Homo sapiens: one gene and its partners. The protein of the gene in region 4 purifies or fractionates together with the protein of the main gene of each other region. This does not show direct contact. Each region holds a gene or a part of one and is shown on either strand. Other genes may lie near its edges.

Region 1 (4,124 bases), on a different chromosome or scaffold from region 4:
AAGAGACTTTGTAGCTTTGAAACACAAAGAATAGGTACTATTTAGGAAGATGTGGGAAGAGGTAAGTCCAGAAAAAGAAATGGCCAGAACAGGCCGGGCGTAGTGGCTCATGCCTGTAATCCCAACACTTTGGGAGGCCCACGCCTGTAATCCCAGCACTTTGGGAGGCTGAGGCATGCGGATCATCTTAGCTCAGGAGTTTCACCAACATGGTGAAACCCCGTCTCTACTAAAAACACAAAATTAGCCAGGCGTGGTGGCACGTGCCTGTAATCCCATCTACTCGGGAGGCTGAGGCAGGAGAATCGCTTGAACCTGGGAGACGGAGGTTGCGGTGAGCCGAGATCATGCCATTGCACCCCAGCCTGGGCAACAAGAGCAAAACTTCATCTCAAAAAAAAAAAAAAAGGAAAAGAAATGGCCAGAACAAAGCATTTGCGATAAGACTGAGCAAGGAATTTGGGGCCAATGAATAGGCCAGGTGGACATACCAGGTTGGGTGACAGTGTAAAAGTCTTGAAATACCAGGTTCAGGAGACTGAACTTCATTTTGCAAGTTTTTGAGTAAGAAAATCCACTTGGTAAAATGTTGCTTAGGTCGTGAGAATAGGAGACAAGGCTAAAACATAGGACATGACTCCAATAATGGAGGTGTGAAGTGACGATGACTTCCTCTGGGATACACGGACCCACACCAAGGCTCTGTGAGTGATGGGACATAGAGGTCAAGAGAAAGAAGCTTCAAAACTATTGATTAAAGGGTCAAGAAGAAAGAATATCTTTCAAAGAAAAGGATTAAATTCCTTAGATATGTTTAATGGTAGGCATTTGAAATAGGAACATTAGAAGGCTTTTGGCGGTATAGTCCAGGCACAGTGGCTCATGCCTGTAATTACAGCACTTTGGAAGCTGAGGCGGGTGGATCAGTTGAGGGTAGGAGTTCGAGACTAGCCTGGCCAACATGGCGAAACCTCATCTCTACTAAAAGTACAAAAATTAGCCAGGCGTGGTGGTGCGTGCCTGTGGTCCCAGCTACCCAGGAGGTTGAGACGGGAAGATTGCTTGAGCCTGGGAGGTGGAGGTTGCAGTGAGCCAAGATCGTGCCCACTGCTCTCCAGCCTGGGAGACAGAGTGAGACTCTGTCTCAAAAAAAAAAAAAACAAAAAAAAGGAAGGAAAGAAGGAATTGAGAGAGAGAAAGAAAGAGAAAGAAAGAAAAAGGAAGGAAGGAAGGAAGGAAGGAAGAAAGAAAGAAAGAAAGAAAGAAAGAAAGAAAGAAAGAAAGAAAGAAAGAAAGAAAGAAAGAAAGAAAGAAAAAGAAAGAAAGAAAGAAACAGAAAGGCAGGCTTTTGGAGGCATAGAGGAAGTACTAGGAAAAGAGGTCAGGACATGCAAAAAATAAATTGGACAGTCATCTCTTAGAGGTGATGACCTAAGTCAAGAACCCATGCAGTAGATAGCAGATACTTGCACCCAATAAAACCATAAGACATATTTAGTTATTCTCATTTTACAGATAGAACCCTTAGGCCCAAAGAAGTTAGTAACATTCCTAAGATCACATAACATGTAACTAATAGAGTTGAGAGTGGAACCCAGGTTGGACTGAATCTGATGCTCATGTTCTTTCCATGCCCCTCTCAAGGTAGGGGAAAATACAGAAATAAATCACAGAGGAGAAAATTAACTTTTAGGGCATGTTTATAGTTTGCAAAAAGAGGAAGCAGTAAAGAAACATGGAGAAGTCTAAGCTATAGGAGGAGAGGAGGAAAAATGCCAAGTCATGGAAAGGAAAAAAGCATCTTTTCTTTTTCAAAGAAAAGATGATCCAAATTCTTCAGGAAGATATCAAGAAGGAATACTGACAAAGGCTAAGGAATTGACAACTGAGTGATACCACGTGGGTATCTATTCCACCCGGTTCTGTTGAGCACATTGTGTCTGCTGCTTACTGCACGACTCCATAACTTCCCTAACTTCCATAGACAGGTCAGGATAAAAATTGCACTTCAAAACTATTTAATTTTTTTTTTTTTTTTGAGACAGAGTTTTGCTCTTGTCACCCAGGCTGGAATGCAATGGCGCGATCTCGGCTCACTGCAACCCCCACCTCCCGGGTTCAAGTGATTCTCCTACCTCAGCCTCCTGAGTAGCTGGGATTATAGGCACCCGCCACGATGCCCTGCTAATTTTTGTATTTTCAGTAGAGATGGGGTTTCAGCATGTTGGCCAGGCTGGTCTTGAACTCCAGACCTCAGGTGATCCACCCACCTCAGCCTCCCAAAGTGCTGGGATTACTGGCGTGAGCCACTGCGTCTGGCCCAAAAATATTTAATTTTAAAACCCTCTGAATATACCGTACTTTACTTCTCTGAAGTTAGCTTTAATTTTGCCTAATTTTTCTTTTTCTGATTATAAATGTATTAAATACATAGAGCAGAAATTTTGAGGGAAAAAGCAAAAAGAAGAAAAATCATCTATAGTCCACACACAATATCACAATTGTTAATATTTTTTATAACTTTTGTAGGTTTTTTTCTATGCATATTACAAATAGGTGTGATCCATCATATACATGGGACAGATATTTCATGTAAAATTTGTACCTCATATTTTCACTTAACGTTATTGCATAAGTAGTTTCCTGTGTTACTGAAAATTATTGACAAATATTTTCATGGCTTCCAAATATTTAATCTTGGATATTCATTCCATCACTCATATAATCATTTACCCATTTGGGGGAATTTACATTTTTTAAATTTGATTATTAATAGGTGTTTTCAAAATCCATTCATTTTCATTTCATTTCATTCTAAGTGAAGTAATTTCATATTCATTAGTCATTTGTATGTTTGCTTTTTTAAAATTTATTTATTTATTTATTTATTTTGAGATCAGGTTATGAGACTGGCTAATTTTTGTATTTTTGTTAGAGACGGGGTTTCACTATATTGCCAAGGCTGGTCTCGAACTCCTGGGCTCAAGCAATCTGCCCTCTTCAGCCTCCCAAAGTGCTGGGATTGCAGGCATGAGCCGCCACACCTGGCCCATTTTCTCTTTTTTTTAAACTTAACTTTTATTTTAAGTTTGGGGTACATTTGCATGTTTGTTACATAGGTAAACTGTGTCATGGGGGTTTGTTGTACAGATTATTTCATCACCCAGGTATTAATTCTACTACCCATTAGTTATTTCTCCTGATCCTGTCCCTCCTCCCAACCTGTACCCTCTGATAGGCCCCTGTGTGTGTTGTTCCCCTCTGTGTATTCATGTGTTCTCATCATTTTGCTCCCACTTATAAGTAAGAACATGCAGTATTTGGTTTTCTGTTCCTGTGTTAGTTTGCTAAGGATAATGGCCTCCATCCATGTCCATTGCAGCACGATTCACAATAGCAAAGACATGGAATCAACCTAAATGCCCATCAATAGTAAACTGGTTAAAGCATTTTCTCATTTGATTTTATCTGATCATTTTATCAGATAAAATCATGCTCAAAAGAGAATATCATTTAAAATATCTGAAGCATTTATCTGAAGCATTTAAAGTGTCTCTATCCTGGCGGGTGGATGCTTGAGCCCAGGATTTTGAGGCTGCCATAAGCTAGGATCTCACCACTAGCCTGGGTAACAAAGTCACACCTTGTCTCTAAAAAATTAATTAACTAATTAATTAATTGACTGTCTCTATCCCTTCATCTTACCGCTTATTCCCTGACCTAAAGTGAGATGTTAATCATATATAAACTTTTTTTTAGATTTGAAACCACAATGACATCTTGGGGCCTTGTCGTCTCTTCTATCAACAATATCGCGGAAAATGTTAATCACAAGACATACTGGCAGTTTCTTAGTGGTGTAACACCTTTGAATGAAGGTGAGGGAAGAAAAGACATAGGCGTTATCTTCCATAGTCTGAAGGCTACATTCTTTAATTATTTTTTCATTTAATTTATTCATTCATTCACTTAATTAATAATTATGAGATCATGTGTATATACAATAATTCTATAAACAGTGATTGCTTATATATGTATACACACATATATTTTGTGTATATATATATATATATATAATCATTACATAGAGAAAGAGATTAATTCTGTAGGCAGCGATAATACTT
Region 2 (4,261 bases), on a different chromosome or scaffold from region 4:
CAGCCTGGTTTTCCAGAGCACTAGTCTCCAAAGTAGACTGGAGTACCAGAAGAAAATATGTAAACTTCTATTTAGATCTACTTTCAGACTTAAATAAGGAATTGAAGCTTTATTGCAATTAATATACCACTGAAACCCATGCTGGGCATGCACATCAGAAGGTCACATGTCAGTACAGCATGCTGGGTATCCTGAAGGTAAGGGGAATCTCATACATGGAAGGACAGACAGTGATAACCTCATCTATTCTTTCACTTTTAGTGTTCATGCATTACAATGTGAGTGGGCCTGGATTTATGGAATAATTTGTCTAGTTTTAACCAAATCAACCTTCACAAAATTGACCCATGGCTTTAAAATGTCTTCAAAGAAATAGATTGGTAACACACACACTCATGTATAAAAGAGAAAATGGAAGCATTCATACTACTCTATGATTACAATCAACAGCCATATTACAAGGTAAAAACAGACTACTTAATCAGATCACAAGACGGTGGCACAACAATAAAAAATTATCAGAATAGTATCTGAAGCAAGGATTTAAAAATATAAACAAAATTTGCACTGAGTATATAATATACCTTAAGATACTAACTGACATAGTAAAACATGCATCTTAAGTTGTAGATGCATATTGTGGCTCTGTCCATAAAATTTTGCACTAATAGGAGTGCAAAAAAGACTCTGGAGGCTGGGCACAGTGGCTCATGCCTGTAATCCCAGCACTTTGGGAGGCTGAGCCGGGTGGATCACCTGAGGTCAGGTGTTCGAAACCAGCCTGGCCAACATGGTGAAACCCCATCTCTACTAAAAATATCAAAAAAAATTAGCTGGGTGTGGTGGTGGGCACCTGTAATCCCAGCTACTTGGGAGGCTGAGGCAGGAGAATTGCTTGAACCTGGGAGGCGGAAGTTGCAGTGAGCCGAGATCATGCCACTGCACTCCAGCCTGGGCGACAGAGTAAGACTCTGTCTCAAAAAAAAAAAAGACTCTGGAGGCTGGGTGCAGTGGTTCATCTCAGCATTTTGGGAGGCCAAGGCAGGTGATCGTTTGAGCCCAGGGGTTCGAGACTGGCCTGGGTGACATGGTGGGACTCTGTCTCTATAAAAAATTATAGAAGTAGCTGGGGGTGGTGGTGTGTACCTGCAGTCCCAGCTACCCAGTAGACTGAAGTGAGAGAAAAGCTTGAGCCTGGGGAAGTCAAGGCTGCAATTAGTTGTGATCGTGCCACTGCACTCCAGCCTGGGTGACAAGAGTGAGACCCTGTCTCAAAAAATAAATAAATAAAATTTAAAAAGAGTTTGGAGCCTTAACTTCTATTGCTAGACCATGCTAATTCTGAGGATTCTACTGGAGAATACTAGTATTCACCTGGTTTATGAGTGTTGTTTACACGTTTCTAGTTGCAGGATCTTCATTGCTATTTAATTTCATCATTAATCTGAAATCATCTATTTAAATTTCTTTCTGTCCAAGGTTTAGTTTATCAAAGTGATAACTGAAATCTTCAAAAATAGATATAAAAGTATATTATGTATGAGTGTTTACATGCAAAAGAAATGTATGCTGGTTTTAAGTCAAATGATCATTCAGCACTTAAAATGAAATATTATAGCACGTTTGCCTTTACAATCAAAAGATTAGATGCCTAGAGCCAAGGTATGATTTTTATGAGTCAAAGTCCAAAATGTTTACTAAAGTTATTCATTTCAAAAAAGTATTGTTTTTGATGGTGGTATTTCAGTTTATTCCCACTGGGAAATAAAGTCAGTTACAAAGTGCTTCAGTTTCACTCTATCTCCCTTTGCTTCTAATGTACAATAGTAGAAAATTCTAAATAGCCTGCCAAGATAATTCCATAATCCTTAAAAATTTGGATTATGGCCGGCTGCAGTGGCTCACGCCTGTAATCCCAGCACTTTGGGAGGCCAGGGCGGACGGACTACCTGAGGTCAGGAGTTTGAGACCAGCCTGGTGAAACCAGGTGAAACCCCGTCTCTACTAAAAATACAAAAATTAGCCGGGCAAGGTGGCACACGCCTGTAGTCCCAGCTACTTGGGAGGGTGAGGCAGGAGAATCACTTGAACCTGGGAGATGGAGGTTGCAGTGAGCTGAGATCATGCCACTGCACTCCAGCCTGGGTGACAGAGCAAGACTCCGTCTCCAAAAAAAAAAAAAAAAAAAATTGGATTATGAGAAGTAAACTCTAGAGTTCCTACTGAAATAAACAGCTAGAAGTTTTTTGCTAACTCCTAATCATTGTATGTTGAAAACACATTTATGTCACCTTAAATCTCTGAGGAACCTAAATATATTTATTTAAAAATCATTTATCAGCCAGGCGCGGTGGCTCATGCCTATAATCCCAGCACTTGGGGAGGCCGAGGCGGGTGGATCACTTGAGGTCAGGAGTTAGAGTCCAGGCTGGCCAGCATGGTGAAACCCCGTCTCTACTAAAAATACAAAACTTAGCTGGATGTAGTGGCGAGCGCCTGTAATCCCAGCTACTCGGGAGACTAAGGCAGAAGAATCTCTGGAACCTGGAAGGCGAGGTTGCATTGAGCCGAGACCACACTACTGCACTCCAGCCTGGACAAGACAGAGACTATATTTTTAAAAATTTAAAATATAATTTATATTTTTAAAAATAGAAATCATTTTCTAATTGCTCTACTATTTTCATGTCTTCTGGAGTGAATCAATATCCTGATTGTTGATCTGGCTGGCTGTCTTGAAGTAAGCCTGTCACTCTGTGGAAAACTGACAGCATTTGTTGCCACTGACATAATTTGAATTTTTAAGTAAAAATTAGTTTTCTTCATGTGTTTTAGGATATTTGATATAGGCTCAACTTGATTGTCCCCTCCTGCTTCTATCCCTGTCTAGCGGCTTTATGGTCATGGTCATTTCTGCTTGGCCTTCTGAGTCCCCTGGTCCACAAACACACCTTATGATGGGACCCCCAAACCACCAACATAAGTGAACATACACGTTATCACAAATCCAGACCTTAAGCCTGCAAGTAGATTGGTCCAGGTCTTGAGAGGCTATATATATCTCTTTATTTCTACACTTTTAAGTACTCAGCTCTATTTAAGTCGTAAATCCAGATAGTTGGTTGAGCTTTCTTCAGATTTATTAATAATTACCAAATTTGGGAATAGTCTTTCTCCCTGCCGTATTTTCTGTTCTGTTTCTGGTCCCCAGTGGTGTTTACCTCATCAATTCTCAATGCGTGGTCTGTGGACCCCTGAAAGCTCCCAAGGCTCTTTCAGGAGTTCATGAAGGTAAAACATTTTCCTAACGATACTAAGACATTATTTGCCTTTTACACTGTGCTGACATTTGTACTGATGAAGCAGATAAACTGGTGGGGAAAACTGCCGGGTTTAATAAGAATCAGGAAGAATACCAAACTCTATTTCACTGCCACATACTTGCAGTTAAAAACAAAAAACCAAAAACAAAAAAGAACAAAAAACCCCCACCAGTTTTACTTAAGAATGTCTGATGAAGCAGTAAAAATTTTATTAAACCTTGACCCTTGAGTTCTCTTGTCAGTAGGATAAAATGGGAAATGCAAATAAAGACTTTTGTTGCATACCAAATACAATGGTTGTCTCCAGAGAATGCATTTAAGCAACTGAGTTGTAAGCTGAACTAGTGGCTTTTTTTTGTAACCACCAAATTTCTCCCATCTTCACAGTCAAACAGCGGTTTATGCTGTCTTCACTTTCTTACCACACATTCATTCAGCCTACTAAAATCTGGCTTTTTGATTTTACTGAAACTGCTCTTGCTAACTAGTCCTTATTTTATCAACTAGTCCTTATTTTACTTTACCATTCTATTGCACCTTACGTTTTGGGGTACTCTTTTCTTGAAATTCTAATAGTGATGCCAAGGCATTATTTCCCTCAATTTTCCTAACCATTCCTTCTCTCCTTTGCAGGCAGATATCTGCTATATCTGCAGCCCAAACTCATATTTTAAATTCTAGATCCATATATATAGCTGTATCCTATAGGATACCTCCAAAAGATCTAAAGAGACCACAAACTCAATACATCTGAAACCTTTGACTTCCCATAAAATCTGCTCCTCCTCCTCTTAATGACATTACCTTGAATATGCTAATGGCAACGAAGTCAGAAAGACAGCAGTCATCTTAGGGTCCTCCCTCTTTGTTACCTTCCATATATATTCTAATTTGTAACCCCCTTTTGTAAACCCCTTCAGTCCTACTGAAACTAATTT
Region 3 (4,261 bases), on a different chromosome or scaffold from region 4:
TCAGCCTGAATGTTTTTCCACAGTCTCTTTGCCTGGCAAATTACTCATCTTGGCAGTTTAGACTCGTCAGTTCCTCAACGAAGCCTTCCCTGAACTGCAATCTAAATCAGGATCCTGGTTATAGTCTTTCTTTACACACTTTTCTTTTCTTTTTTCTTTCTTTCTTTCTTTTTTTTTTTGAGACGGAGTCTCGCTCTGTCGCCCAGGCTGGTGTGTAGTCGTGCAATCTCAGCTCACTGCAACCTCTGCCTCCTGGGTACAAGTGATTCTCCTGCCTCAGCCTCCTGAGTAGCTAGGACCACAGGCGCCTACCACCACACTCAGCTAGTTTTGTATTTTTTTAGTAGAGACAGGGTTTCGGCATGTCGGCTAGGCTGGTCTCAAACTCCTGGCCTCAGGCAATCAGCCCACCTTCACCTCCCAAAATGCTGGGATTACAGGTATGAGCCATGGCGCCCGGCCCCTTTTCTTTTCTTTTTTTGGAGATAGGGTCTCACTCTGTCACCCAGCCTGGAGTGCAGTGGCATGACCATAGCTCACTGCAACCTTCAGCTCCTAAGCTCAAGCCATCCTCCTGCCTCAGCCTCCTGAATAGCCGGGACTCTAGGCATGCACCACCATACTGGGCTAATTTTTTATTTTTCTTTTTTAAAAAATTATTATTATTATTATTATTATTATTTTTGACATGGAGTTTCACTCTTGTTGCCCAAGCTGGAATGCAATGGCGCAATCTTGGCTCACTGCAACCTCCACCTCCCAGGTTCAAACAATTCTCCTGCCTCAGCCTCCCAAGTAGCTGGGATTATAGGTGCCCGCCAACATGCCCAGCTAATTTTTTTTGTATTTTTAGTAGAGCCTAAAAAGGGTGAAACAGTGTTTCACCATGTTGGCCAGGCTGGTCTCGAACTCCTGTCCTCAGGAGATCCACCTGCCTTGGCCTCCCAAAGTGCTGGGATTACAGGTGTGAGCCACCGTGCCTGGTCAAATTATTATTATTTTTTTAAGAGACAGGATCTCTCTATGTTGCCCAGGCTGGTCTCAAACTGGGCTCAAGAGATCCTCCCACCTCAGCCTCCCAAAGTGCTGGGCTCACAGGTGTGAGCCACCACACTGAGCCTCACATCCTTTGCTTTTCTTTCAAAGCAATGATTCCAGTCATAATTATGTAGTCGTGAATGATTGTTAGTTTAGTATTGGTTTTCTCCAGTGGATTGTAAGCACCATGAGAACAAAGTTAGACTGTTTTAGTCTCTATCTCACCACCACCTGCTTAGCTTAGTACCTGCCACGTAGTAGATGCCCCAAAATACTTGTTGGATAAATGAATTAATTACTTCATCATTGTCACCTCCAGTCCAGGCACTCCACTTCCCTGGTCACACCCTGCATCTTTTTTTTTTTTTTTTTTTTTTTGAGATGGAGTCTTGCTCTGTTTCACAGGCTGGAGTGCATTGGTGCGATCTCAGCTCACTGCAACCTCTGCCTCCCAGTTTCAAGTGATTCTCCTGCCTCAGCCTCCCGAGTAGCTGGGATTACAGGCATGCACCATCACACCCAGTTAATTTTTGTATTTTTAGTAGAGACAGGATTTCACCATGTTGGCCAGGCTGGTCTCAAACTCCTGACCTCAGATGATCCACCTGCCTTGACCTCCCAAAGTGCTGGGATTACAGGCGTGAGCCACTGTGCCTGGCCCGTATCCTGCATCTTGTCATTACCCGCACTCCATCTCTGGAATACTTATCCATTGAGGATCTACTGAACATCTAGTAAGTGCCAGGCATTGTGGTAGGTGCTGGAGACTCTGAGATAGACAGGATATATTGTATCAGGAAGTTTTCAAGGATCCAGAATCCTACTCTCTGAGTAGACCCTGTCAGGTTCCAACTCCCCCAGTTATCCTCGCTGTACCTGCTCTTCAACCCCATTGAACATGACAAATGTCCTATAGCTCCACATGTATCATCTCCCCCCACTTTCTCTTCCCTCTCCATCCCACCGAGAGCCATGTTTCACTCTTGTTGCCCAGGCTGGAATGCAATGGCGCGATCTCGGCTCACTGCAACATCCTTGCTCTCTCCCCAAAACTGCTACTTTTGCCTCAGTGCCACACCCCGCTTCTAGACCTGTCAAACTATCTACCTGCTCAGCCTGTACCCAGATGACCAAATACTGCTCAAAAAAATAAAAGTAGCCCTGAACAGGCTGGGCACCATGGCTTACGCCTGTAATCCAAGAAATTTGGGAGGCCAAGGTAGGAGGATTGCTTGAGCCCAGGAGTTCGAAACCAGCCTGGCCAACATGATGAAACCCTGTCCCTAAAAAAAATACATAAATTGCCGGGCGCAGTGGCTCACACCTGTAATCCCAGCACTTTGGGAGGCCGAGGTGGGTGGATCTCCTGAGGTCAGGAGTTCGAGACCAGACTGACCAACATGGAGAAACCCCATCTCCACTAAAAATACAAAATTAGCTGGGTGTCGTGGCGCATGACTGTAATCCCAGCTACTCGGGGAGCTGAGGCAGGAGAATCGCTTGAACCCGGGAGGCGGAGTTTGCAGTGAGCCAAGATCGTGCCATTGCTCTCCAGCCTGGGCAACAAGAGTGAAACTCTGTCTCACAAAAAAAAAGAAAAAAACAAAAAACAAACAAAAAAATCATAAATTAGCTGGGCATGGTGGCTCACGCCTGTAGTCCCAGCTACTTGGGAAGCTGAGGCACAAAAATCACCTGAAGCCGGGAGGCGGAGGTTACAGTGAGCTAAGATCATGCCACTGTACTCCAGCTTGGGCAACAGAGTGAGAATTGGTTGCAAATATATAAAAATAAATAAATCCTGTCCCTAAATAATAATAATAATTTTGAAAAAAGAAAAATGAAAAATTAGCTGGGCGTGGTGGCCCCTCCCTGTAGACCCAGCTACTCAGGAGGCTGAGATGGGAGAATCACCTGAGCTTGGGAAATCGAGGCTGCAGTGAGCCCAGATTGCACCACTGCATTCTAGCCTAGGTGACAGAGCAAGGCCCTGTCTCAAAAAAAAATTAATGTAATTTAATTTTTTTTTTTTTGAGATGGAGTTTCACTCTTGTTGCCCAGGCTGGAGTGCAATGGCACGACGTTGACTCACCGCAACCTCCGCCTCCTGGGTTTAAGCGATTCTCCTGCTTCAGCCTCCCGAGTAGCTGGGATTACAGGCATGCGCCACTACGCCCGGCTAATTTTGTATTTGTTTTGTTTTTTTGAGACAGAGTCTTGCTCTGTCGCCCAGGCTGGAGTGCAGTGGCGCGATCTCGGTTCACTGCAAGCTCCGCCTCCCGGGTTCATGCCATTCTCCTGCCTCAGCCTCCCAAGTAGCTGGGACTATAGGTGCCCGCCACCACGCCCAGCTAATTTTTTGTGTTTTTAGTAGAAACGGGGTTTCACCATGTTAGCCAGGATAGTCTCGATCTCCTGACCTCATGATCTGCCCACCTCGGCCTCCCAAAGTGCTGGGATTACAGGTGTGAGCCACCATGCCTGACCTGTAATTTAATTTAAAAGCCCTGAGCAGGCTGGGTGCGGTACCTCATTCCTATAATCCCAGCATTTTGGGAGGCTGAGGTGGGAGGATTGTTTGAGGCCAGTAGTTTGAGACCATCCTGGGCAACATAGGGAGACCTCGTTTCTACTAAAAAAAATTAAAAATTAGGCTGGGCATGGTGGCTCATGCCTGTAATCCCTGCACTTTGGGAGGCCGTGGTGGGTGGATCATCTGAGGTCAGGAGTTTGAGACCAGTCTGCCCAACATGGTGAAACCCCGTCTCTACTAAAAATACAAAAAATTGGTTGGGTGTGGTGGCAGGCACCTGTGATCCCAGCTACTCGGGAGGCTAAGGCAGGAGAATTGCTTGAACCTGGGAGGTGGAGGTTGCCATGAGCCGAGATCGCACCACTGCACTCCAGCCTGGGCAACAGTGAAACTCTGTCTCAAAAAAAGTAAAAAAAAAAAAAATAGCCGGGCATAGTGGCACACATCTGTAGTCCTAGCTACTTGAAAGGCTAAGGTGGGAGGATCACTTGGGTCCAGGAGTTGGAGGCTGCAGTGAGCTATCATCTCGGCACTGTCTGGGTGACAGTGAGGCCCTATCTCAAAAAAATAAAGCCCTGAACATTGTTGATTCCACAGACTCAAGGTCTTTCAGCAGGTGAATCCAGCAACATATCAAAAGAGTAATCATACACCTTGATCAAGGTTAGCGTTGAGCTCAGGAAGATAAGG
Region 4 (4,242 bases):
CTCTTGAATTCCTGGTAGTAGCCAAAGCAGCCGGTGACGACAACCACAGCAATGAGAGCGATTGCCAGGTACAGCTGGGGACAGGGAAGGGGTGGGGTTATTCAGAGGGGCCGGAAGCTGCCTGCCTGAGGCCACCGACCTGCTCCCTGGTGCCCTGGTTTTCTTGGTTTTCCCCATGCTTTTCCCCACCTACTAGGAAGCTCCATGCACCATTCCCTGTAGCCTTTAGCCCCCTCCCATGTCCCTCATGTCCCACACTCGCCTGCTCTGTCTTCTCAGTGTCTTGTGTTTCTGTGTATATTTCATATCCTCTGGCCCTGAATCCTCAATCTTCCATGTCCCCATATCTGTGACTTGTGCCCCAAATCACTGTGTGCCTTGGTCTGACGTGTTCCCTTCTCCTGTGTCCCCAAGCCTTGCATTCCCCATGTCCACTGTCCCATGTCTCCTCCTGTCCCCATGGCCTGTATTCCCCGTGTCTCCAGTTTCACATCCTGGGTTTTCCATAATCTGCTGCCACCCTCTGTGTGTCCCCTGGGCCCCCTTGTCCCTGCATCCTCACATCCCCGTCCCTGCGTGTGCTGCAGACCTTGTACGTCATGGTCTGTGTCCTCTGTGGCCACGGCCCCCATGTTCTAGCTCCCCAGTCACTGTGTCCCGTGTCTCCCATGTCTGTGTATCTCCGAGTTCCCATCCTGTGTCCCATGGCCATGACTTTTCGAGCCTCTGTCCCATGTCACATGTCCCTGAGTCCCCATGTCCCTTGCCCTCATCTCTGCCATATGTCCAATGTCCCTTGCCCTGCACCTCCATTTCCTCTCTGTCTCTGTGCTTCTATGTCTCATGTTTTGTGTCTCTCTATGTGCTGTGTCCTGAGGCTTGGGTCCCTGCCCTGGTGTCCTATGTCTGAGTCCCAGGGTCTCCTATTCCCCGTGCCTCAGTCTGTCCTGTGTCTGCACTGCATGTCCTCTGCTTCCAAGTCCCATCTCTTTTTTTTTTTTTTTTTTTTTTTTTTAAGATGCAGTCTCGCTCTGTCGCCCAGGCTGGAGTGCAGTGGCATGGTCTTGGCTCACTGCAACATCCACCTCCTGGGTTCAAATGATTCTCCTGCCTCAGCCTCCCAAGTAACTGGGATTACAGGTGCCCGCCACCATGTCTGGCTAATTTTTGTAATTTTAGTAGAGATGGGGTTTTGCCATGTTGGCCAGGCTGGTCTCGAACTCCTGACCTCAGGTGATCTGCCCGCCTCGGCCTCCCAAAGTGCTGGGATTACAGGCATGGGATTACACGCCCGGCCTCCAAATCCCATCTCTTACGTATCACATTGCCATACTCTTTATGCCCCCACCTATGTCCCCATACCCAAGATTCACCCCAGTGTCCCTGTGTCCTGTGTCCTTGGGTCTGCCCCATCCATATCCCAATGTCCTTCACCCTCCATGACCCCTGTCTTGAGACTGCCTTTCGTGTTCGTCTATCCCCATCCTTCTCTGCCCCTCTTGTCCCAAGTCCCAGGCTCAGTGTCTTCCATCCCCAGGTCCCCATGTCCTGAGCCTGTCCCCACAACATGGCTCACATTGTCGTCGGTGGTGAGGTCCCCCTCACTAGCCTGGATGGCAAAGGCGATGAGGCAGATGGCGGCGGCAACCCACATGAGGCACTGCAGGCCCCCGGCCAGCTGCCTCGCGAACTTGACGTACTCTGGGGTGCCCCGTGGTGGCCGCAGTGCGTTGGGCCCATCCCGCAGCAGCAGCTCAGCAGCCAGGCTCGCAGAGAGGCCCTGGGACAGAGGGGCAGGGCGAGGCGGTCCTGGGGGCTTTCCTCCACATGCACACCCCGTGGAAAGCCCCCTGCTTCAGTTTCCCTTCTCCAGCTTGGTCTGTCCTGCTCCTTCTCATCTCTTTGTCTCTTGGTTCCTGCCCCCACCCCATCTCTCCCTCCCTCCTTCATCTCTCCCTTTGTCTCTCTCTCCTCGCTCCCCTTTCTATGTGTCTCTCTCCTGCTGCTCTCTCCTTATTTGTCTCTGCCTTCTCTGTCTTGCTGTCTCTTTTCAGCTACTCCTCTCTCCGTCTCTGTGTGTCACCCTTTCTCTCTAATGCTTTCTCCCTTCTCTCCCTCTCCCTCTCTCTCCCTCTCTCCATCTCCCTCCCTCTCTCCTCCCCTCCCTCCATCCTTTCCTCTCTCCCTCCCTCCCTCTTTCCTTTTCTGCCTCCCTCCCTCTCTCTATTTCTCCATATCTTCCTCTCTTCATCTCTCCCTCTCTCTCCCTCTCTCCATCTCCCTCCTTCCATCTCCCTCTCCCTCCCTCTCTCCTCCTCCCCTTTCTGTACGCTCCCAGTCTCCAGCTCACCTTGGTGGCACTGGTCTGGTATTTCTGTTCCAGCTCCGCCACTGACAGCTGGTGGTCGTTCTGTGTGGTGGGGTGGGGCAGGGTGCTTGCTCTGGGCTCTCCTGGCCCCCTCCCCGCCCACTGCCTGGTTCCCAGCCTACCCTCCAGCTCCCGCCCCTCCCCAGTCAGAGCTCACAATCTCCATCTCCTTCTTCATGTTCTCCAGCTTCTCCTTCCTCTTGCCACCCCCGCCACCCGCCTTCTTCTTCTTGCTCATCTTGGCAGCCATGTCCCCGCCAGGGCCAGGACCCAGCTCCACCGAGTAGAGCTCATAGTTCTCCTGGGAATGGACAGGATGGAGGGAGGGAGAACTCAGATTCCACTGCAACCCCTGTCCCCACTGCACCCCGGACCCCTGGGCCCCACTCACGGCCTTCCCCATGGTGCCCGGTGCCTGTGCTCCCACCCAACAGAGCCTGGGCCCGGACCAGTCCTGATATACCCAGGGAGGGCGGTGGGGTGGAGCAGAACCGCCCGACCACAGCTGATTACAGGCTCCTTGGGGTGACCTCTAGGCCTGGGCACCTCAGGCATTCCCTCCTGGGCTGGCCCCCCCCTCCCCTGCCCAGATCCCCCCATGTCAACCTGCCCTGAGATCAGGGAGCCCCTGGGAACCGCTGCAGCAACAAGAAGAGCAAACATAAGGTGCTCATTATGCGCTGGGCATTGTGCTGACGGCTTCCATGTGCTAACTTATTTAACCTTCCAATAACCCTTTGAGGGGACAAGACCCTTTACAGATGGGGAAACTGAGGCATGGAGGGGTTGAGTCATTCTCCTATGGCTCCATCACAGGCTAGGACATAATGGAGTGAGAACCAGATCAGCTGGCTGCAGAGTGTCCTCTTTCAGTCTAAATAGCACGTGCCTGATCAACTGGAAGAGGAGGGTGCTCCCACACTCTTTTTTTTTTTCTTTTTTTTTTTGAGATGGAGTGTCACTCTGACACCCAGGTTGGAGTGCAGTGGTGCAATCTCAGCTCGCTGCAACCTCCGCCTCCCGGGTTCAAGTGATTCTCCTGCCTCAGCCTCTTGAGTAGCTGGGACTACAGGCACATGCCACCACACCCAGCTAATTTTTGTACTTTTAGTAGAGACGGGGTTTCACCAGGTTGGCCAGGCTGGTCTCGAACTCCTGACCTCAGGTGATCCACCCGCCTTGGCCTCCCAAAGTGCTGGGATTACAGGCGTGAGCCACCATGCCCTGCCATGCTTACAACACTCTCTATGGTGGCTGAATGTTTACTGAACTCTGACTATTCACTATGGGCTGGGTGTGCTCTGTGTGTCACTCAAATGGTTTCCTTAGCATCTAACAGCAGCCCTGTAAAGCAATATTCTCTTCTTAGCCCCCATCAGGGACTTTGCAGAAGATTTCAACGTCTAAGAATTAGGGACAGGGTTCCAGCCCGGGCTTGACCCCAGGGCTTGACCCCAGAGCCTAGCTCTTCTATGGCACCACCAATGGAAAAACCCAAACTTCACTGCAGCAGCACCACACACATGCCAGGCTCTGCACGTGTGACCTCACGGGTCTTTGCAAAAAACCCTGTGCAGGCAGAACTATCATTCCTGTTGTGCAGAGGGGGAAACTGAGGCTCACAGGGACTCACATATCCAGCTACAGACTTTACAGCTCTCAACCATTCCCCGTCCCTACCCTAGATGGGGAAACCAAGGTGCAACATGGGGAAAGGATGTGTCCAAGGGTCTTGGCTTGATCTTGGTGTTGGGTGACAGATGCCAGGAGGCCTGGGGACTCCCTCCTCATCCCTCAGGTAGGGACCTCCATGGGCAGCAGCAGCGAGGGGCTGGGCCAGTGGAATGGTGGGGACCTTGGTATGTTATGGGGTG
Region 5 (4,261 bases), on a different chromosome or scaffold from region 4:
AAAAAACTTTAAAAATCAGCCAGGCCTGGTGGCTCATGTGTGTAGTCCTGGTTACTCCGGAGGCTGAGGTGGGAGGAATGCTTGAGCCCAGGAGTTTGAGGCTACCATGAGCTATGATTGCACCACTGTACTCCAGCCTGGGCAACAGAGTGAGACCCTGTCTCTAAAAAAGAAAAAGGAAAAAAAAAAAAAAGAACTGGAGGCCAGGTGCAGTGGCTCACATCTGTAATCCCAGTACTTTGGGAGGCTGAGGTGAGCGGATCACCTGAGGCCAGGAGTTCAAGACCAGCTTGCCCAACATGGTGAAACCCCATCTCTACTAAAAATATAAAAATTAGCTAGGTGTGGTGGCAGGCGCCTGTAATCCCAGCTACTCAGGAGGCTGAGGCACGAGAATAGCTTGAGCCCAGAAGGCGGAGGCTGCAGTGAGTGGAGATCATGCCACTGCACTTCAGCCTGGGTGACAGAGCGTGACTCTGTCTTAAAAAAAAAAAAAAAAAAAAAAAAAAAAGAACTGGCTCTGCAGAGGCTTCCAGTGGAGGTGAGGCTGGGCCTGAAGTTTGGGAGCATCTGGTTTAATAATTAGGGGTGTGGGGTGAGGTGTGGAACCCAAGCGGTGTCTCCACAGGCAGGAACAGCCCTGAATTTGGCCACCCTCAGGGCTGTTCCTCATGGAGCCCAGGCATGGCTGTGAAGCTGGACCTGAGCCCTGCATCTGTTACTAGGAAGGGGAGGGTGTGGAGGAGCTCTTCTTGGGGCAGGGCAGGGTGAAGACAACTGTTCCAGGCCAGCAGGGGCACAGTAAAGAGGATGGCAGAGCCCCATGCAGAGATCAGATGGGAAAGGGAGACAAGGTTGTGTTCTGAGGACATTCTTGGATTTTATGAAAAGACTTTAAAAAACCCCCGAAACCCAGAAACATTTTCTTGAATTTTCACCTCAGCTCATCATATCTCTGCTCTTAGCAAGTGTGCCCGATTTAATAAAATCAGTACTGGCAGCCAGCAGCATGTTTTTGTTCTAGAAACTTAGACTACTTTTTTTTTTTTTTTTTTTTTTGAGATGGAGTTTTGCTCTTGTTGCCCAGGCTGGAGAGCAATGGCACAATCTGGGCTCACTGCAACCTCTGCCTCCCGGGTTCAAGTGATTCTCCTGCCTCAGTCTCCGGAGTAGCTGGGATTACAGGCATGCGCCACCACACCTGGCTAATTTTATATTTTTAGTAGAGACGGGGTTTCTCCATGTTGGTCAGGCTGGTCTTGAGCTCCCGACCTCAGGTGATCCACCCGCCTCAGCCTCCCAAAGTGCTGGGATTACAGGCATGAGCTACTGCACCCGGCTACCTTAGACTGTCTTTTACAAAATAAGAGGAATGGCCAGGCATGGTGGCTCACGCCTGTAATCCCAGCACTTCGGGAGGCCGAGACAGGCAGATCACGAGGTCAAGAGATTGAGACCATCCTGGCCAACATGGTGAAACCCTGTCTCTACTAAAAATACAAAAATTAGCCGGGTATGGTGGCGGCCGCCTGTAGTCCCAGCTACTCAGGAGGCTGAGGCAGGAGAATCGCTTCAACCCAGGAGGCGAAGGTTGCAGTGAGCCAAGATTGCGCCACTGCACTCCAGCCTGGGTGACAGAGCAAGACTCTGTCTCGAAAAAATAAAAAAATATAAAAAAAGAGGAATAAATGAATAATAAGTAAAACAGTACAGAAAGGTTATAAAGTCAATAGTAAGTCTCTACCCTCACCACCCCATTCACTTGCCCCTCAGCACCCCACCCCTCAAAAAAAAAAAAAAACCCACTCCCTAGAGGTAAATACTATGAACCATTTTGAATCTGTATAGGGCACCAACAGGAGCCTGTGTGGTGTGTACTCTCAAGCTTCTGGGTAAAGCTTGCTCTGGGTCTCTTCTGGGCTGAACCTTTTCCAGGAAGGGGGAAGGGAGAAGGGACCGCAGCTGTGGTGTGGCAGAGGCAGGCACAGGACCCTTCCAGAGAGGCTTCTCAGGGTCCCGGGAGGGTGATCAGCTGCCCTGCTTCAGTCAGGCGTCACCGGCTCGCCTGCCGGCCCCTGGCCCGGATTTTCTCCACTGTGTCTAAGGGCTTTTTTTCACCTTCTCAGGATCCCTCTGTGACCCAGCTGACCAACGCCCCGCAGGGCGGCCTGGCGGAATTCAACCCCTTCTCAGAGGTTGGTGAGCAGGCCCTCTTTCCAAGTCCCATGGCCCTCTAGGGTGGTGCTGGGGTGTCCGGGGCAGGGATCCTTGGCAAGGACAGAAGCAGCTCTGAGAAGCGGCAGTCCTCAAAGGGACAGTCCTAACATGAACCCGGGAGGCAGGGTAAGGATGGCAAAGCCACCAAACGCTCTGTAAAATTCTCCCCTTGGGATCTGTGACCGGGGCCCCTCCCCAAGGAGGTCAGGGCAGTGCCCAAGTGTGCTGGACCCAGCGAGCCCAGGGGTGCCGGGTTAGGGATCAGATGGCCTGAACCTGAGGCTTGTTGGCTGGGAAGCCACAGGGGAAGGCCCAGTGCAGGCCCCGAGGGAGTCCCCTCACAGGCAGGGGCACATCACTCATCCTGCTGTGGGTTTGCCCCCTCGTCACCAGCTAATGGAGTCCCACTCAATTCTGTCTTTTGATTTGTTCCATGTAGACAAATGCAGCGACAACAGTTCCTGTCACCCAACTCCCTGGGTCCTCACAGCCAGCGGTTCTCCAGCCATCAGTGGAACCAACCCAGCCGACCCCCCAGGTAGTGCTGACAAAGAACTCTGGCCTTTTCTCTCCAGTGAGGGAATCATCCAGACCAGTAGCTGAGCCCTGAGGCTGGGGGCAAGCAGAGAGCTTTCAGCCTTGGCCCCCTAAGGGCCCTCTTGCTAATTTGTTCGGAGCTGGTCACCTACAAGTAGAGGGGCTGCTCTGCCAATTAATATCCTTACTCCCTCCATCCCACCCACCACCACCACTGAGAAATAAGCTCTACTCACCAGGCCGGGCTCCTCGGTGCCTCCAGAGAGGGCATTTGTCCCTGTTGTACCCCTCCAGGTCCTCCTCGGGCCTTTGGCTTGTTCTCTCTTCCTTGGGGCCCAGAATCTCTCTCTTTTTTTTAACTTCATTAATTCTCACCTTCCTTCCTGTCTTCCTTTGTCCCTTCACCAAATACTGTGAATCTTGCCTGCTTTGTGCCTGGTGCTCCACTGCGCCGCCTCACTGCCCTCCCGCTGCACCCCTCGCTGCCCCTATGAGCGTGACCCATGGTGGAGTTGTGTGTTGCAGCTCCTGCTTAGACAGGCCAGCAAGTTCCCGCCTGCCCAATTCCTGGCAGTGAGCGAGCTCTCAGAGAGGCAGATGCTCCTAGGAGGAGAAAGTATTCTCAGAGACAGCTACATGCGAAAGCTTCCGAAGGTAGGCCTAATGTAGATGAGCAGGAGGAAGGGCAGGGCACCCGGAGCCTGCCCCACACCCCTCCCAGGCCCCAGAGCCCTGTGGAGGTGAGGCAGGCCTTACATGCGGAGTTGCCTTTCTGTGCAGCTGGGTGGTGGGCTGTAGGGAGCTGGGTCCTTCTCAGCTGGCGTCACAGACTTGGAGGAGGTCAAGACCCCCAGCGTGGCACAGCGGGGTCAGTTCTGCTCCTGCTTCCGCCCCCAGTGCCTGAAACTTGGCTCTCCACGTCAGCCTTAGGTCTTTGAAGAGCTTTTGGAGAGGTTGGTGTGTGTATACATGTGTGTGTGTACACATGTGCCTGGTTTGTCATCCTGTGAAATGACCAGTTTGAGATCTCTCCCTAAAAAGGACTGTAGTCTCATCCTTCAGGAGGAACCTGGCCCAAATGGCAGCAGCTGCCAGCAGGTGCAGGGCCCCGGGGCCAGGTCTGTTCAGCCTCACATACAGTCAGTCCCTTACTGTTACTCAGAGGCTCTACCCCGCCTGGAGAGGAGATAAGTGTGGACTCTGCATGCCACTAAAGCCAGGCAGGGCAGGGCCACACCTAAGGGGCTGTCCTGGGGTGTAGCCAATTGCAGTTTAGGGGGACCTCAGGAGGCAGCTCCTGGGGGCAGGCCATGGGGCAGGGTGCTTGTACAGATCCTGAGGCTCAGGCACACGCCATCTGCCTTCACGTGTCTCCCCTTTCCACTCACTGTTAGCAGGCTTGCACTGTTTTCCTTCTCACACATCCACCAGGCTCTTCAAATGAGGCTTGGGTCTGTGGGTTTCTTATTATAGTTTAGTTTCTTGTGAGGTCTTTTTCCCAAAGGTC
Region 6 (4,261 bases), on a different chromosome or scaffold from region 4:
AGTAAAAATATATATGAGTGGGAGGAGCTATTGACCCATAAAAGTGTTATCTTGAAAAGCTGCTGAAAGATGGGGCTTGTTCTCATCTCCTCAGTTGCTTTGCCCCCACAAATGCTGGTGTACTGCTGTATTCAATGTGTATAACTTTAAATACAGTTTCTGTTGTCTAAAAAGCATTGAATCATCTTTTATTTTGAAATGGTATTGATTGCATGTTTAAATGATAATACTTTGGAGGTATTGGATTAAATAAACTGTGTGTGTGTATATGTGTGTTTTCTGCAGTGAAAACACTTATTTTACAACAGTAATCTTTATTTTAGGTCAACATTCAAACATACAAGAAATGTGTTGTTACAATTAAAATTTTTTTAAAAAGTAGTGGAGCATCATCTTCATCCCATCCCTCTTAAGCCCTGACTTGAACACCCTAAGAAACTTCTTGAATTATTCTGGGCTGGCCGCACACCTGTAATTCCAGCACTTTGGGAGGCCAAGGCAGGGGGATCACTTGAGGCCAAGAATTCGATACCAGCCTGGGCAACATAGCAAGACCCCCGTCTCTACAAAAGTAAGAAATTAGCTGGGCATGGTGGCACATGGCTGTAGTGCTAGCTACTCAGGAGGCTGAGGCAGGAGGATTGCTTGGGCTCAGGAATTCAAGGTTACTGTGAGCTATGTTTGTGCCACTGCACTCCAGCCTGAACAACAGAGTGAGAGCCTATCTCTAAAAAATAAAAAATTGGGGGAAACTATTGAATTATTTCATAGCTTTGTATTTTAAATTGTTTTATCTTTTAATTTTGACATAATTTTAGACTTGCAAAATAGTACAAATAATTTGTATATACCCTTTACTCAGATTCTCCAAATGTTAACTTCCTACATAAACACAATGCAATGATCAAAATCAGGAAATAACATCGATATAGTACTGTTACCCAACCTACAGACCTTATTTCAGTTTCACCAGTTGTCTCAATGATGTCCTTTTTCTGGTTCAGGATCAAATCCAGAATGCAATGTTGTATTTATTGTCATGTCTCTTAAGTCTCCTTTAATCTGAAATAGTTCCTCAGTCTTTGTTGTTCATGCCCTTGATGCTTTTGAAGAACACTGTCAGTTATTTTATAAAATATTTCTTAATTTGGGTTTGTCTGATATTTTCTCATGGTTAAATCCAGGTCATGCCTTTTTGGCAAGAGTACCACAGAAATGATTTTGTGCCCCCAGTGCATCATATCAGGAGACACTTATTATTGACTTATTCCATTACTGGTGATAATTAATTTTGATCATTTAAGTTGGTGCCTGCAAGGTTTCTCTGCTATAATGTTATAGGTTATACAAATATCCTGTTTCTTTATACTTTTGCCACCTAATTTTAGCACCCACTGTTGATTCTTGCCTGAAACAGTTACTACCATAGTATTTGCTAAATGGCAATTTTTAATTTTCATATAGATTTATTTCATGTATAATAATCAGGGTCCATATAGGAAATTAAGAGAGATTACTAAAATTATATTGCTGGTTTGAAATCTCACTGGGCATTCATGTGCTACTTCACTAAAGCCATTTTATATTCTTCTGTTTTTAAATCAAACATTGTCGCTCATCTCACACCATTCAGGGATCAGTCTTCTTTTTTCTTCCTATTCTACCAAAAAGGAAACTATAGTAAGATTGTGACTTTAATTTCACAAGTTTGGCCATCTTGTCTCCTGGAAGTTTGGTGTCTGGCTATCTGTTGGCAGGAGAAAAATCTGTCCTGAAGGGGGATAGGTCTTTCCTGTCTGTTCCATAATGAGCTCTGGTAATAAAATGCTCATATCCTTGCCTTAAAACCCAAACATTGGCCTTCTTACTTAAGATTGATGTCTGGGGAAGTCTTTAAGTTTCCTCATTAGAAACTTACTGGAAATGCTGACACGGATTTTATGCCTTTTATTTTCAGCCTGCCACAGTGACTCAGGTCACTCAAGGAACTATCCGACCAGCTGCCAACTTCGATGCTATAAGAGATGCAGAAATTCTTCGTAAGGCAATGAAGGGTTTTGGTAAGGAAAACAAATTTTTGTCTTTTTTAATAAGTTAAAGTAATCAGTTCTAAAGTAAAAATAAACCTTATCTCATAAACCCAAGTTTATGTGTCAGCCTGGGTGCGCATACCTGGATTTAATCTGATGTCTAGTGCCTTGTAAGCATTCTAAGAGATGACCTCAGGCTGGGTGTGGTGGCTTACACCTGTAGTCCCAGCACTTTAGGAGGCCGAGGTGGGCAGATCACCTGAGTTCAAGACCAGCCTGGCCAACATGGCGAAACTCCATCTGTACTAAAAATAAAAAGTAAAATAGTTGGGCATGGTGATGCATGCCTGTAATCCCAGCTTCACGGGAAGCTGAGGCAGGAGAATTGCTTGAACCTGGGAGGTGGAGATTGCAGTCAGCCTAGATCACACCATTGCACTTGCACCCCCAGTCTGGGTGACAAACTCCGTCTCAAAAAAAAAAAAAAAAAAAAAAGATGACCTCAAGCAGCACCTAGCATGTACTTTGTCCTTACTTAAACATGTGTGGTTCTTCCAGGGACAGATGAGCAGGCAATTGTGGATGTGGTGGCCAACCGTTCCAATGATCAGAGGCAAAAAATTAAAGCAGCATTTAAGACCTCCTATGGCAAGGTATGTTTTTCTTTCCTGGAATGAGCACCAGCAGTGGCTGGTAGACTCTGCATTCATGTCAGATTGGATACTATATTTTGATTAGTACCTGTGGTGCAAAAGAGGGACAACTAGACTTTAGAGACCTCAAGGGTACTGTATTCCCTATTTCTGTTTTTTGTTTTGTTTTGTTTTGAGATGAAGTCTCGCACCAACATCCAGGCTGGAGTGCAATGGTGCGATCTCAGCTCACTGCCGTCTTTGCTTCCCGAGTTCAAGCAATTCTCCTGCCTCAGCCTCCTGAGTAGCTGGGACTACAGGTGCACAGCATCATGCCTGGCTAATTTTTGTATTTTTAGTAGAGACAGAGTTTCACCATGTTGGCCAGGCTGGTCTCTAACTCCTGACCTCAAGTGATCCGCCTGCCTCAGCCTCCCAAAGTGCTGGGATTACAGGCGTGAGCCACCATGCCTGGCCTATTTCTCTTAAAAGGCTTTTTCATTCTAGAGTAGTCCTTGATCTCATAATCATACCTTACCCCAGTCACATATGTGATAGACATTCAGTAGAAAGTAGATCACAACTACAATCATGATCAAGAGGATGGTTCTCAGTCTTCTGCCTGTTACAGTGGGATTCAAGGCTTATTACATAGCCCTTGTTTATTCTTGGTCCTGGGCATCGCCTTCTGCTTCTCTCCCTTTCTCTAAACGTGTCCTATGTTAAAATTATATGGACTGAGCGTGGTGGCTTACGCCTGTAATCCCAGCACTTTGGGAGGCCAAAGCAGGAGAATTTCTTGAGGCCAGGAGTTCAGGACCAGCCTGGGCAACATAGGGAGACTTCATTTCCAACAACGATGACAACAAATTATATTAGCTGGGCGTGGTGGCGTGTGTCCATAGTCCCAGCTGCTTGGGAGGCTGAGGTAGAAAGATTGCTTGAGCCCAGGAAGTCAGGCTGTTAGTGAGCTGTGATTGTGTTACTGCACTGTAGCCTAGGTGACAGAACAAGACGCTGTCTCAAAAAAAAATAATATGGAAATGCTTGCCATTCTCTGTACACGCCATGATCTTTTATGCTTCTGTGTTGTGTACATGCCATTCTCCTGGCCTTGAATACCTTTTCTTTTTTTCATGGCAAACTTCTTTAAGATTTGGCTTAAATATCAGCTACTCTGAAGTTTCTTTCATTAGTCTGGACAGAATTTAGCTGCTTCTTAATACTGTAGTCCCATAGCACTTTGTAAAACCTCTGTTATTACTAATCTCACGGCCCACCCCCAAAAACTGAGCTCCCATAGGACAAACCATGGTCATAGTCATCTTTGTATTACAGTACCAAGTATATAATGGCAAGTAGCCACTTAGTACTTGTTGAATGGATGATCAGTTTCTAAATCCAACAAGATTCTATGGCTAAAAAATGCCATTGTTCCTCAGATGTAATGGGAAAACATGGATAGCACTGCTTTGCTTTTTTTTTTTTTTTTTTTACTTTTTTTTGAGACAGAGTCTCAAAAGGCTGGAGTGCAGTGGCATGATCTCCGCTCACTGCAGCCTCCACTTTCCAGGCAAGAGCGATTTTCGTGCCTCAGCC
Region 7 (4,261 bases), on a different chromosome or scaffold from region 4:
ACCTTCTCAGAGGCCAGCACTTCGTCTACCAGATTGGCTTTCCAAGGAACTCACTGAGCTGCGGGGTGGCTTATCCTTCCTGTCCGGTAGGATTTGATACTTACTGCAGCAAATCTATTCTGGATGTTTCTTGGTGACAACAGAGACACCAAAACAGCCTTAAACTGCTTATCTATTTGACTAATTTTAAATGAGAAAAAGTGAACACTGTCTTTCTTCAGTCACTATTATTTGTTTCTCTTTTAGATACAGCAGAACTTAATGCTAATCAATGTAAAATACAATTAATAAGAAAATATACAAACCATTATAAATTTAGAAGGAAAATCTATAACCTAAAATATTTATATTAGTAAATCAGAAGAAATAAAACTTAAGATTCAACTCAAGAAGTTGGGGGCCAAAAAGAAATCAAACTTTAGGAAATCTGAAGAGAATTATTAGAAAGAAAAGTAAATTTTAATGAATTAGAAAGGAAATAAAAGTAACATTAATTTTTTAAAATCCAAATAATGGTTTTTTAAAAAAAAATTTAGGTAAAAGAATGGCTAACCTTGTCAGGTAAAAAATTAAAAGAATAAATGAATACACACGGTAATAAATTATAAGAAATGTTATAGATATGGAAGTAATTTCAGACAGCTCTTTAAATACTGATGTGAAATTTGATCAAGAAATTTTACTAAGTGAATACTTCAGGTACAAAACAATTTATACAACATGCCACCATTTGGATAATGAAAGCAAATGATAGCTATATATAGATTTGTTTGTATTTTCTTGTATTTACATGAAATATCTCAAATAATATATAAATATTCCAACCACATAAGTTGTCTGTGAGGAAAAGAATTGGATAGTAGTGGGGGAAGAGTTTACACTTTTTTATTTTGAAGTTTAAACCATGTGATTATATTGCCTGGTCCAGAATATTTTTTAAAAAGTAATATAGAAATTCAAATTTATATCTTAAATGATTGCCTTTTTTCAATCGGAGGATAATTTCTACTTAACTAGAGGTAAGCACCATTTGTAACATCAGGGAAATGCCCCTCACTGCATGCCTAGGTTGGGAGGTATCTGGAGCCATATTGTTGGTTAGAGGACATGCAGCACGTACAAGTTTCCATTCTGTGAGGTCTCTACATGTTTAATGGTTTTCTTGTACACTGTGTTTTCTAAAGCCTTTTTGTTGCATGAGTAAAAGTTACATTTACTTTAGAGTTATTTAAAAAGCATCACTTTTCAACAAAGTTAACATTTGTATAAATATAATTAGCATAAAATACTAAAGATTATCCACAAACCTAACCAGTTTACAACTCATTTTTGAGCTTTTTAAAGAGGTTGCAGTGAAATATTCACAGGTTTTCCAAAAAAAAAGAAAATTCTTTCACAGTACAATAGAGGGAGCTGAAGGTTATGTCAGTTTATCTAACATGGTTATTTTTTAAATCTTTTGGTGACATCCTGTGAAAGAAATATTGAATTCTATTTTTTAAATTTTAATCCTCCTTAATCTTATACCTCTATTGATCTAAAAATTACTCAAAAACCAAAGTGAGCAAAACCCAAACACTTCTATCTAAAGTGCAACATGAATTGTAAACTTATCTGACTCTCCCAGTGGAATTTGTGTAGATATTTCCTGGTTTCTTGAGAGTGATCTAGTCATAAGGACCAATGTTTCTTTTCAATTTCAAAGGTAGTACTGGAAATTTACACCCTTCTTCTTAACAAGTTGATTGAAAGTCATACCTGAGCAGGTAATTTTGGCTTCTTCATAGTGATCACAGGTAAGTCCACCCCATTGCCAGTTCTTGCAGTCCCAAAGAGAAGTTTCATTTCCGTTACAGCTACTTAGAAACAGCCATGTGTTTGTTGCCTGGATTTTGGAGTACACTTGATAAGATGTTTTGAGTGCAGATCCACATCCCAGCTGCCTGCAAACCACATCAGCTTCTTTCAGTCCCCAGCCTCTGTCACACACCTTCCCTAACAGTCTCTGAATCTCCACCTCAACTGTCCCAGCACAGCGGCTGCCTCCACCTCTAAGTCTTAGCTCCAGATCTGATCCATCTGCAAAAGAAACATAAACTTAAACCATCGATACATATGGAGGTTAGCTTCCAGAGGATTTTTTTTTGTCTTTTTTCTTCTCTGATACTGATGCATTGAAAATTATAGGTAACTTATTTCCTGACTTTTTAAGAAACAATAATATAGACCATAAATTTTTGTTAGAAATGGGACTGTAGTTTCAAGGGTTGATAAAAATTGTCAATGGCAGAAAGATATGAGCAATTCAGCTTTAAAAGAGATTCCTCAAAAAGTGGGTGAAGGGTATGAACAGACACTTCTGAAAAGAAGGCATTTATGCGGACAACAAACATATGAAAAATAGCTTATCAACAATGGTCATTAGAGAAATGCAAATCAAAATCACAATGAGATACCATCTCATCCCAGTTAGAATGGCGATCATTAAAAAGTCTGGAAACAACAGATGTTGGCAAGGATGTAGAGAAATAGGAAAGCTTTTACACTGTTGGTGGGAGTGTAAATTAGTTCAACCATTATGGAAGACAGTGTGGTGATTCCTCAAGGATCTAGAACTAGAAATACCATTTGACCCAGCGATCCCATTACTGGGTATATACCCAAAGGATTATAAATCATTCTACTATAAAGACACATGCACATGTATGTTTATTGCAGCACTATCTACAATAACAAAGACTTGGAACCAACCCAAATGCCCATCAATAATAGACTGGATAAAGAAAATGTGGTACATATACACCATGGAATACTACGCAGCCATAAAAAAGAATGAGTTTATGTCCTTTGAAGGGACACAGATGAAGCTAGAAACCATCATCCTCAGCAAACTAACACACAAGAACAGAAAACCAAACACTGCATGTTCTCACTCATAACTGGGAGTTGAACAATGAGAACACACGGACACAGGGAGGGGAACATCACACACTGGGGCCTGTCAATGGGTGGGGGGAAAGGGGAGGGAGAGCATTAGGACAAATACCTAATGCATGGGGGGTTAAAACCTAGATGACAGGTTGATACGTGAAGCAGACCACCATGGAACATGTTTACCCATGTAACAAACCTGCACATTCAACACATCTATCCCAGAACTTAAAGTAAAAAAATAAGTAAATTAAAAAAATTTAAAAACAGATTCCTAGGAAATTTTGTCTCTCTGAGCTCCAGGTAGATTCTGAGTTTGAAGTGTGCTCCATAAAAGCAGTCTGAGTAATTATTACAGAGAATGCCGTCAGACAACCTTCCAAACTAGTTGAATAAAGAATGTGTCAAAGATTACAGGTATAAAGGAATTCCCAGCAAGGAATTTACTAGGCATTTCTACTTCTTAAGGAGCACGTTCCTACTCTTAAGGAGCACAGGACTTTCCGTTTCTGCTTTTCTTTTTGTTTAGTGTTTTGGTTTTGGTTTGGTTTTAACTTACCAGAACATGTCACGCCAGCATCTTCATTGTGATTGCAATAATGCTTTCCCCATTCATGGTGTTTACATTGCCAGATAGCAGGTTCATGTCCCTGGCAAGAAACGCTGTCAAGCCAGATGTGTCCAAATCCCTTACTGGCGTTAACTCGACCAATGGCTGTGACGGCAGTTGGACATCCCAGTTGCTTGCATGCCACAGCAGCATCGTAACTGTCCCAGCCGTCATCACATATTGTCCCCCATTCTCCTTGGAATCTCACTTCTAATCTTCCTGAACATTCAGTGACTCCATCTACCAGTCTCAGGCTCAGATCTGCTCCCTCTGTAACAGAGACACACAACAGGTCTGCGATAAGGAAGCAAGAACATGAGACTATAAATAGCTATACCTGAGATGAGTTAAGGAAAAGGGGAGAGATATAAGTGGAGACAGAGAAAACTGTGATGTACTGTACTACCACTGGAAATCATTCAAGATGGAAGGAGGAGTGGATCAGGCAAGAAGATGGGACATCTCAGTATAGACAGCATATACTACAGGAAGTGTTTCTAACAGGAGATACAGGGACTGAATTTCATCTAGAGACCTGCTATTTGACCACCACAGAGTTCTTGTTAGAACTGTTTACTTTTTCTGGTTAAAATATATTTGCATGTGTTTAGGTGACTCCCTCATCCTTCAGTTTGCCTCCATACTTAGCAATCCCTTTTGCCTCTGACTGCATTCTCCATTGATACTACCTAGCCTGTGTTGTACACCTGAACCTGTTGT

The links.
Region 1: the proteins of ATP4A (region 4) and CBLIF purify together in Homo sapiens (affinity purification with mass spectrometry, with the first as the bait; one study listed by BioGRID). This does not show direct contact.
Region 2: the proteins of ATP4A (region 4) and SYPL1 purify together in Homo sapiens (affinity purification with western blotting; one study listed by BioGRID). This does not show direct contact.
Region 3: the proteins of ATP4A (region 4) and TFR2 purify together in Homo sapiens (affinity purification with mass spectrometry, with the first as the bait; one study listed by BioGRID). This does not show direct contact.
Region 5: the proteins of ATP4A (region 4) and SCAMP2 purify together in Homo sapiens (affinity purification with mass spectrometry, with the first as the bait; one study listed by BioGRID). This does not show direct contact.
Region 6: the proteins of ATP4A (region 4) and ANXA7 purify together in Homo sapiens (affinity purification with mass spectrometry, with the first as the bait; one study listed by BioGRID). This does not show direct contact.
Region 7: the proteins of ATP4A (region 4) and CD163 purify together in Homo sapiens (affinity purification with mass spectrometry, with the first as the bait; one study listed by BioGRID). This does not show direct contact.

What each region holds. Positions count from the first base shown.
Region 1 is NC_000011.10:59,831,432-59,835,555, reverse strand, and holds part of CBLIF (cobalamin binding intrinsic factor precursor), read left to right. Parts: intron 1-3,759; coding exon 3,760-3,878; intron 3,879-4,124. UniProt on the Homo sapiens protein: Promotes absorption of the essential vitamin cobalamin (Cbl) in the ileum. After interaction with CUBN, the CBLIF-cobalamin complex is internalized via receptor-mediated endocytosis.
Region 2 is NC_000007.14:106,105,574-106,109,834, forward strand, and holds part of SYPL1 (synaptophysin-like protein 1), read right to left. Parts: intron 1,509-4,261; exon of another isoform or gene 1,375-1,508; intron 1-1,374.
Region 3 is NC_000007.14:100,634,778-100,639,038, forward strand, and holds part of TFR2 (transferrin receptor protein 2), read right to left. Parts: intron 1-4,261. UniProt on the Homo sapiens protein: Mediates cellular uptake of transferrin-bound iron in a non-iron dependent manner. May be involved in iron metabolism, hepatocyte function and erythrocyte differentiation.
Region 4 is NC_000019.10:35,560,859-35,565,100, forward strand, and holds the start of ATP4A (potassium-transporting ATPase alpha chain 1), read right to left. Parts: upstream 2,801-4,242; 5' UTR 2,772-2,800; coding exon 2,760-2,771; intron 2,670-2,759; coding exon 2,526-2,669; intron 2,411-2,525; coding exon 2,351-2,410; intron 1,781-2,350; coding exon 1,577-1,780; intron 75-1,576; coding exon 1-74. UniProt on the Homo sapiens protein: The catalytic subunit of the gastric H(+)/K(+) ATPase pump which transports H(+) ions in exchange for K(+) ions across the apical membrane of parietal cells.
Region 5 is NC_000015.10:74,852,515-74,856,775, reverse strand, and holds part of SCAMP2 (secretory carrier-associated membrane protein 2), read left to right. Parts: intron 1-2,126; coding exon 2,127-2,195; intron 2,196-2,656; coding exon 2,657-2,755; intron 2,756-3,279; coding exon of another isoform or gene 3,280-3,408; intron 3,409-4,261. UniProt on the Homo sapiens protein: Functions in post-Golgi recycling pathways. Acts as a recycling carrier to the cell surface.
Region 6 is NC_000010.11:73,386,111-73,390,371, reverse strand, and holds part of ANXA7 (annexin A7), read left to right. Parts: intron 1-1,957; coding exon 1,958-2,060; intron 2,061-2,588; coding exon 2,589-2,683; intron 2,684-4,261. UniProt on the Homo sapiens protein: Calcium/phospholipid-binding protein which promotes membrane fusion and is involved in exocytosis.
Region 7 is NC_000012.12:7,493,323-7,497,583, forward strand, and holds part of CD163 (scavenger receptor cysteine-rich type 1 protein M130 isoform b precursor), read right to left. Parts: intron 3,812-4,261; coding exon 3,491-3,811; intron 2,080-3,490; coding exon 1,759-2,079; exon of another isoform or gene 1,706-1,758; intron 87-1,705; exon of another isoform or gene 1-86. UniProt on the Homo sapiens protein: Acute phase-regulated receptor involved in clearance and endocytosis of hemoglobin/haptoglobin complexes by macrophages and may thereby protect tissues from free hemoglobin-mediated oxidative damage.